2 linked regions of the Homo sapiens genome follow. The protein of the gene in region 1 interacts with the protein of each later gene in a pairwise test. Each region holds a gene or a part of one and is shown on either strand. Other genes may lie near its edges. The genes, in order: ZNF614 and NFIX.

Region 1 (4,595 bases):
ATTGAGTCTACTTTTTTTTCCTTCTTTTTGAGACAGGGTCTTACTTTGTCACCCAGGTTGGAGTGCGGTGGTGCAAACATGGCTCACTGTAGCCTCGTCCTCCTGAGCTCTAGCAATTCTTCTCCCACCTTAGCCTCCCGAGTAGCTGGGATTACAGGTGTGCACCACCACACCCAGCTAATTTTTGTATTTTTTGTAGAGACGGGGTTTCACCATGTTGCCCAGGCTGGTCTTGAACTCCTGAGCTCAAGCGATCCAGAATCTACTTCTTAAGGCAGAATGAACCCCCACCTCTACTCCCAAAAGCAATGTAAGTTAATTTCTCCCTAGAACACAATTATCCCAGTATATACTTCCTTAAGTTCAACTGACTTCTTCAGGCCACCATAAATCTATCAAAAAATCAAAGGGAAAATATCACCTGGGTCTTGATCATTTTCTTCTGTGCTCAGAAAATAGTGGATAACATGGACTATACGTCTTTGTCTCTTCTGCATTTGCCATGAAGTTTTTGAAGTTTTCCTAGTCAGAAATATTAGTGTCCACTTAAAGTTGTCCCCAGAAATTATGATATCCAAGGCCAGCAACCTCCTTCTTCTTCCTTCATTGCTTCACTTGAGTTATTTTGCTTCTGGGAGCCAGGACCTGAGGACTGATAAACAAAATGGCTTTCAGTGTACATTAACCCTGGGTCCAGACATTGTCACTGCTGCTCTGCACTTACCTTAAATAAAAGACCCTAATATTTCTAACAGTTCCTTTATTTGCTGCCTCAGAGGTTTTCATGGTTCTAAATGTGTGAAATCTATGCCTTTCTTTTGTGAAGTAGAAGTGGCATGACTATTATAGAGAAGGTGGGAAAGCAGAACCAGCACAGCACAATGCCTCAGAGGCAGGTGTCTGGGGAAAAGAAAGAGAGATCAGACTGTTACTGTGTCTATGCAGAAAGAAGTAGACATAAGAGGCTCCATTTTGTTCTGTACTAAGAGAAATTCTTCTGCCTTGAGATGCTGTTAATCTGTAACCCTAGCTCCAACCCTATGCTAGCAGAGACATGTGCTGTGTTGACTCAAGGTTTAATGGATTTAGGGCTGTGCAGGATGTGCTTTGTTAAAAACGTGCTTGAAGGCAGTATGCTTGGTAAAAGTCATCACCATTCTCTAATCTCAACTACCCAGAGACACAATACACTGCGGAAGGCCGCGGGGACCTCTGCCTAGGAAAACCAGGTATTGTCCAAGGTTTCTCCCCATATGATAGCCTGAGATATGGCCTCGTGGGAAGGGAAAGACCTGACCGTCCCCTACCCCGACACCTGTAAAGGGTCTCTGCTGAGGAGGATCAGTAAAAGAGGAAGGCCTCTTTGCGGTTGAGATAAGAGAAAGGCATCTGTCTCCTCCTCGTCCCTGGGAATGGAATGTCTCCGTGTAAAACCCCATTGTCTGTTCTATTTACTGAGATAGGAGAAAACCGCCTTAGGGCTGGAGGTGAGACATGCTGGTGGCAATACTGCTCTTTATTGTACCGAAATGTTTGTGTGCGTGCACATCAAGGCACAGCACGTTTCCTTAAACTTATTTATGACACAGAGACCTTTGTTCACATGTTTTCCTGCTGACCCTCTCCCCACTATTACCTTATTGTCCTGCCACATCCCCCTCTCCGAGGTGGTAGAGATAGTGATCAATAAATACTGAGGGAACTCAGAGACCAGTGCCAGCGTGGGTCCTCCGTATGCTGAGTGCTGGTCTCCTGGGCCCACTTTTCTTTCTCTATACTTTGTCTCTTATTTCTTTTCTCAGTCTCTCATCCCACCTGACAAGAAACACCCACAGGTTGTGGAGGGGTGGCCCCCTTCAAGGTGAATTCTCAGACAGATCAATTTTAGGAAAGAGAACACATGGAAGGCTCCAAGAATGTCTTTAAAAACCACGTGTGCCCATGTACTGGTTCGAAAGTCTCTGTAAGCTCTTTGGGTATACATACCTCGTGTCAAGACCAATGTACTAAGCAAATCACAAGAACTGTCTCATTTCACATTATGCGCTAAAGGAGTAACTTTACCCAAGAGAGCTTTGTCCTTTGCCCACAGTTCCTATGAGGCAAACTCTAAGCCTTTGGAATACGCTGCTTGATAAAACTGTCTTTGGTTATCAGGGCAATTTAAGCCATGCCAAATTGTCTATCCTAATAATGTGATTTACTGTGGGAGACCTTGGACCACGTGGTATTAGTTTGATATCTGGAGGAGCTGGAGATTGAAGTCAGCCTCATAGGCAGTCAATTGTGTGTGTGTGTGTTAACTGATATCCAATAAAACTCTGGACACCAAGGCCTAGGTGAGTGGCAACAATGGTTACAATGGCTGGCAATAATAATATAAGGGTGTATATATAAGAATATGATAATTTAAAAACGTATGAAGCAAAACAGAATGAGAGAGGATTAGACAATTCAACAATAATAATTGAAGACTACATTACCCTACTTGCAATAATAAAGAAAACAAATAGAAACTCAGCAAGGATACCGAAAACTTGAACAACATTATCAACCAACTAGACTTAACGAACATTTAACACTGCACTCAACAGCAGTAAAATAAACATTTTTTTCAAGAGCACATGTTATATTCTTCAGGAAAGATAATATCCCATGTGATAGCCTGAGATAGGGCCTCATGGGAAGGGAAAGACCTGACCGTCCCCCAGCCCAACACCCGTAAAGGGTGACTCACAAGGGCCCCAGACCCAGACAGAGTCGGACTCGTCGCTGATTTCCTCAGACTCTTCATCCCTACAGCCAAAGGACCCGTCATTAACGCCCCGCTTCCTCAGCGACTGCGTTCAAATACAGCCCCAATCAGGACGCTCCACGCACCATCGGTACACAGACCCACAGGCCGCGAGTCCATGCCCAGAACTCGACTCACCCGAGCCCGAACCTCTCCAGACACCACTGGCAGCGACAAAACGCCGCATCCACGTCCGAAAACGCTTCCTATTCAGACGCGCTCCTGCGCGGACTCCGGGAAGCTGAGCGGTAAAGACCGTGAAGCGAGGCGAGGACCACGGAGCCTGCCCGGGATCGCGAGTTCAGACTGCGGGCGCCGCTCTATGAGGTCACAGGGCTGCGCCCATCGCAGCGTTTCTGACAGGAGCGGCCATAATGGCTGTGGGAATCACTCTTAGTCACCTCAGTGCCTTTCTCTCTTCGTTGCAAGGGACACTCAAGAGTCGGGTGCCCAGCCAAGGCCAACACGGCGCAGTGGCATTCTATTCAGCCTGCTGTGGAAAAAAGATGGCGGCGCCCTTTGTGCCCATTATAGCTGAGAGTGGAGCCTTAGCTGGAGCACCATGGGCACGGCCATCTTAGAGGAAGGCAGCAGCCGTACGGCAGAGAAGATGCTCATATCCAGGACAATTTGGAAAAATAAACAAGGTTTGAAGAAGTCACGGTGCTGGCCAGGAAGCGGTCACAGAGTTGCCAAAACCAGTGGTCACTGAAAGTGTTAGATTTGGGGATAGGGCGGGGGTTCTGGGCTGGGTAAGGCTTTTGTGGGTTAGATTAGACTCTGACTGAATGGACGAAGCCGAGAACAGGAGTGATGCTCCATTAAATGCTAATACCCACATGGGGCTTGCTATTAAAACCACTGCCAGTGGGGAAGGGGATGAGGAGGTGAAGGTGCAACTGTGTTAATATCTACATGTTTCCTTCCAGAAGTAAAGGAAGATGACAGTGGGGCACTTAAGAATATGAAATTATTAGAATGCGATCATCCTACTTTGCAATGTTTCCAGATTTTTTAAAAAGTCACACTTAAAAAATATTAGTTCTATTTTTGCAGATGTTGGCGTTGTAACTGTAGAAGATTTAAGTAAATATTGTATTTTTGGAAGGCAACCTAGAGCCAATTTAATTTTTTCGTTTTCTTTGACACAGCAATTCTAAAAGCTATCTAGGCAAATCTGTCTTAATATTAACCACAACTTTTGTAATTTACAAAAAAAGGGAATTACAATGAGAGATGAATACTTTGGTAAATTATGGAACATCTGCTGAACTGTAAGAGTATATATCAATTTAAAAGAATATGCTACAATTGTTTTATAAAAAAGAAAACTTTGTCAGAGGACAAAAAAATGATCTGCAGGATAGTATATATTTTATGGTCTTGTTATTGGAAGAAATCATAAACATCTTTTGGAAAATTGTGATTGGTTAAACAAGACATTTAGTTTGAATTAATATTGTTTGTGTTCATAGGTAGAGAATGCCATGTTTTTACTTGAAAAATATTCCCAATTTATACTTAATTTTACTATCTTTGTACCATAATCATGAATATATTATAAAACATGTTGATCTTAGAAAATAGGTATGATGATGTATAATAAGTTCATGGCATGATAAATGCAAAATAGGCTGTTTTCTTTCAGAAAATAAATATGCTCATGCATTTGAAAAATTCTGGAGAATATACTAACAATATTTGACTGTTCCGTACAATTATGGTGACTTAAAATTTCTTCATTTTACTTACGTTTTGTAATTTCTAGAGAATAAGAATTTCATGTTCGTATTTCTTGAGT
Region 2 (3,813 bases), about 39 Mb from region 1:
AACCAGGGACCGTTGTCCCACTGAAGGGTCATCTCTGGCCCACCACCTCCTGGGATCATTCTTTCGCTGAGCAACCCTGAGTTTCTGTCAGTGACAGAGAAGGGCTCTGGGGGGAGCCAGTGTGTCTCCCAGGGCTGAGGAGCAGCAGGGTTTCACTCTAGAACCAGGACCGTCCTGGGAACCCTTTGTTAAAAGTCCTGCCAGCAGGAGTCTCCGTGGCAGCTATGTGGATCGGGGCTTTCCCTTGACACAGTGCTCCTCACTAGGGATGGTCTTCCCCTCCTGGGCACACTGAAATCTGGAGACTTTTTTTTATTATCAAGACTGGGGAGGAGGAGGTGCTCCTGGCATCTAGCAGGTGGAGGCCAGGGATATTGCTCAACATCCTACAGAGCACTGGATGGTCTCACACAATAGTGAATAAACAGCCCCAAATGTCAACAGTGCTGATACTGGGGAAACCCTGGTCTAGAATCTAGCAAATCCTTGCAGCCCCGAGGTTTAAGAGGAGCGCTGGGAGGTCAGGGCCCAGATCCGGGTTGGATCATCATGAGTTCACTCCTGCTGAGGGGGCAAGGACCATGGGAAAGGCAAGGAGCCTGACTGAGCAAGGGGGCCCAGATGCTGCCCCCACCTCTCCGGACCATGATAGACAAGCCCTGGCATAATACACAGACCCCCGTCCCCAGACCCAGAAAATCGAGGCGTTTGGTACTACCAGCTCCCTGCTGCTCCAGCCCCAGGTGGGCTCCTGGCTTTTGGGCCCTCTCCCTGTGAGCCCTGAGACAGACAGATAGATGTGGAGATGAGGCTGTAGCCGGGCTCCTGGGGCCCTCTGGACTCACCTGTCCGGTGGCCTGGCCCGAGCCATCCGAGCACACAAACTGCACAAACTCCTTCAGTGAGTCCTGCCCGTGGTGGTGGTGGTAGCGGATGGTCGGGTGCGTGAAATACGGGCTCGACTGCTGGATGATGGACGTGGAGGGGAAGTGCAGGGCTGATGCTGTGGCCCGGGGGCTCCCTGCATGCACGTGGGCAGGGAAAAAAGGGCGTCAGGGCCAAGGAGGCAGCCAGTGGGAGGGACAGGAGAGGAGGGGAGCTGCCGGTCAGAGGGTCCTGAGGATCCTGAGCAGGTAAGGCAGCCGCCACAGGCACAAAAGTTAAGGCGGCACAAAAAAGTCAGTCATCAGGATCCATGATGTTTTAATGCAATACAAAAATAATAATAATAATAATAATCAAATAGGCAAACTAGGGTCCAAAGGCCAGCCATTTGTTTTTGTAAATAAAGTTTGATCACAACCAGCGCTGGGAGATTAGGATGAGGCAGATGAGGCAGGGTAGGATCTTGTCTTTATTTTATTTGGCTTTTTAAAAAAGTGTTATTATTATTATTTGAGACAGGGTCTCGCTCTGTCATCCAGACTGGAGTGCAGTGGCACAAACACGGATCACGGCAAGCAATCCTCCTGGGCTCATGCAATCCTCCCACCTCAGCCCCCCAAGTAACCAGCACTACAGGTGCACGCCACCAGGCCTGGTAGATTTTTGCTTTTTTTTTTTTCTAGAGATGAGATTTTGCCATATTGTCCTGGTTAATCTCAAACTCCTGGGCTCAAGTGATCTGCCTGCCTTGGCCTCCCAAAGTGCTGGGATTACAGGCATGAGCCACTGTGCCCAGCCTAAAGAATTTTTTTTTTTGAGACTGAGTCTCGCTCTCTCACCCAGGCTGGAGTGCAGTGGTGCGATCTCAGCTCACTGCAAGCTCTGCCTCCCGGGTTCACGCCATTCTCCTGCCTCAGCCTCCCGAGTAGCTGGGACTACAGGCGCCCACCACCACGCCCGGCTAATTTTTTGTATTTTTAGTAGAGACAGGGTTTCACCGTGTTAGCCAGAATGGTCTCGATCTCCTGACCTTGTGATCCGCCCACCTCAGCCTCCCAAAGTGCTGGGATTACAGGCGTGAGACACCGCGCCCAGCCAGTATCTGTTAAATAGAGACAGGATCTCGCCCTGTCATCCAGGCTGTAGTGCAGTGGCATGATCACAGCTCGCTGCAGCCTCGAACTCCTGGCCTCAAGCAGTCTTCCTGCCTTGGCCTCCCAAAGTACAGGGATTACAAGCATGAGCCACTGTGCCCAGCCTCAACATTTTAAACCATTTTAAACAAAGACATGGCTGAGTGCTGTGGCTCATACCTGTAATCCCAGTGCTTTGGGAGGCCAAGGTGGGAGGATCACTTGATCCAGGAGTTGGAGGTCAGCCTGGGAAACATAACAAGACCCCGTCTCTACAACAAACATTTAAAAATTAGCCAGGGTGGCACACAGGAGGGATCACTTGAGTCTGGGAGTTCAAGGCTTCAGTGAGCTATAATCGTGCCACTGCATTCAGCCTGAGTAATAGAGCAGGAAACTGTCTTTGAAAAAAGAAAAAGAAAAACAAACAAAAAAACTGGTGTTTGCTTACCATACCCTTTTTTTTGCAATAGTTTGGATTTTAAAACATATTCCATTAAAATATTATTTATCTTGATGACTGAGTTTTTGATACTTGCTGACACTCTGCACCTAAGGTGAGTGCCTCACTAGCCCTGCCTTAATTCAGGCCCTGGGTGGGAGACTGGGTGGGGGACAAGAGGAGGCAGAGGGTTCCCTGGGGCTCTGGATGAAGACAAAGCCAGCATCTGCTCAGGATGGCCGTCTGACATATGCACACACATCTCCTGAGTGCGAGCTGGTGTGCACCCAGCCACCGCCACCTAGGCGGTGTTCTCATGTGCTCAGCCTCATCACTCACACACGTGTCCTCACATACGCGTCCTTGCACACGCAATTCCCAACCCAGAGCAGGCCCCAGCTCTTCCTCCTCCCGTCTGTTTCCAATCAGCTCGCTCTTGCTCTCGGTTTCATTAGGGGGCTGAGGAAACTTGGCTTCTCTCTGGAGTTCATAAAAGCTGAGGTGGAGCCGGAGGAGCCAGGCCTGCGCCCTCCTGCTGCCTGTGTAGAGGGCCTGGGCTCCCCACCCCCACCTCGCGGCCACCACACCCTGCCCCAGCACCGGCTGCCTCTGGGCTCCCAGCCAGGAGGCCCCAAGGAGGAAGCCAGGAGGTAAACCTCCTCATTTTCTGTGTCCTACATACGAGCCCAGGAGATGGCAGGCGGACATAGGGCCATATCCAGAAAAAGTCCAGGCCTCTTGCTGCCAGGTGGGTGCCCAGAGAGGGAAGAAGAAAGTGAAGGAGTGACAGGGCTGAGGTCTCAGCTCCCACAGCCTCCTGCCTGATCCTATCTCCTCAGGGCGATCTAGGTGTTCTCATCCTGAGCACCTTCTCAACTGGGACACTGAAGTCAGAGAGCAGCCCCACGGCAGTGGGCAGTTCCTTTTCCTGGGGAGCAGCCCAGGTACCACCTGTCCCCTAGACCCAGCCCTTCCTTTCTAGAAAGCGGCAGGGAGGCCCAGACAAGGTAGCTACTTGCCGCAGGAGCCTGGGCTCCTTAGGAGTACTCTTCTCCATCCAGGCCCCACATCAACCTGGGCTCATGCTGGCAAAAATCCAGAGCCTGGGCTCAGCCAGGAGCTGGGAGAGAGGAGCCGGCAGGAAGGCAGAGCAGAAGGCTGTGCCTTCCCGCTCACAGCTGGCAGGACAAAAGGAGAACTGGGCCAGAGTTGGGGAGGACTCGGGACAGGCTTGTGTTGTATGTAGCACCCATGCACGTGAGGAGTGAGAAGTGGGAGGTTGCTCAGGAGCCAGGTGGGCAGCCCAGGGGCCCGGCCTGGTCCTCGATGAGGTGCTACGTGAAGCAGGGGCCG

The links.
Region 2: the proteins of ZNF614 (region 1) and NFIX interact in binary tests that used the Homo sapiens proteins (3 or more experiments, as listed by UniProt).

The regions. Positions count from the first base shown.
Region 1 is NC_000019.10:52,025,310-52,029,904, forward strand, and holds the start of ZNF614 (zinc finger protein 614), read right to left. Parts: upstream 3,071-4,595; 5' UTR 2,933-3,070; exon of another isoform or gene 1,803-2,932; intron 1,230-1,802; exon of another isoform or gene 1,090-1,229; intron 653-1,089; 5' UTR 437-652; coding exon 422-436; intron 1-421. UniProt on the Homo sapiens protein: May be involved in transcriptional regulation.
Region 2 is NC_000019.10:13,078,888-13,082,700, reverse strand, and holds part of NFIX (nuclear factor 1 X-type), read right to left. Parts: intron 1,022-3,813; coding exon 846-1,021; intron 1-845.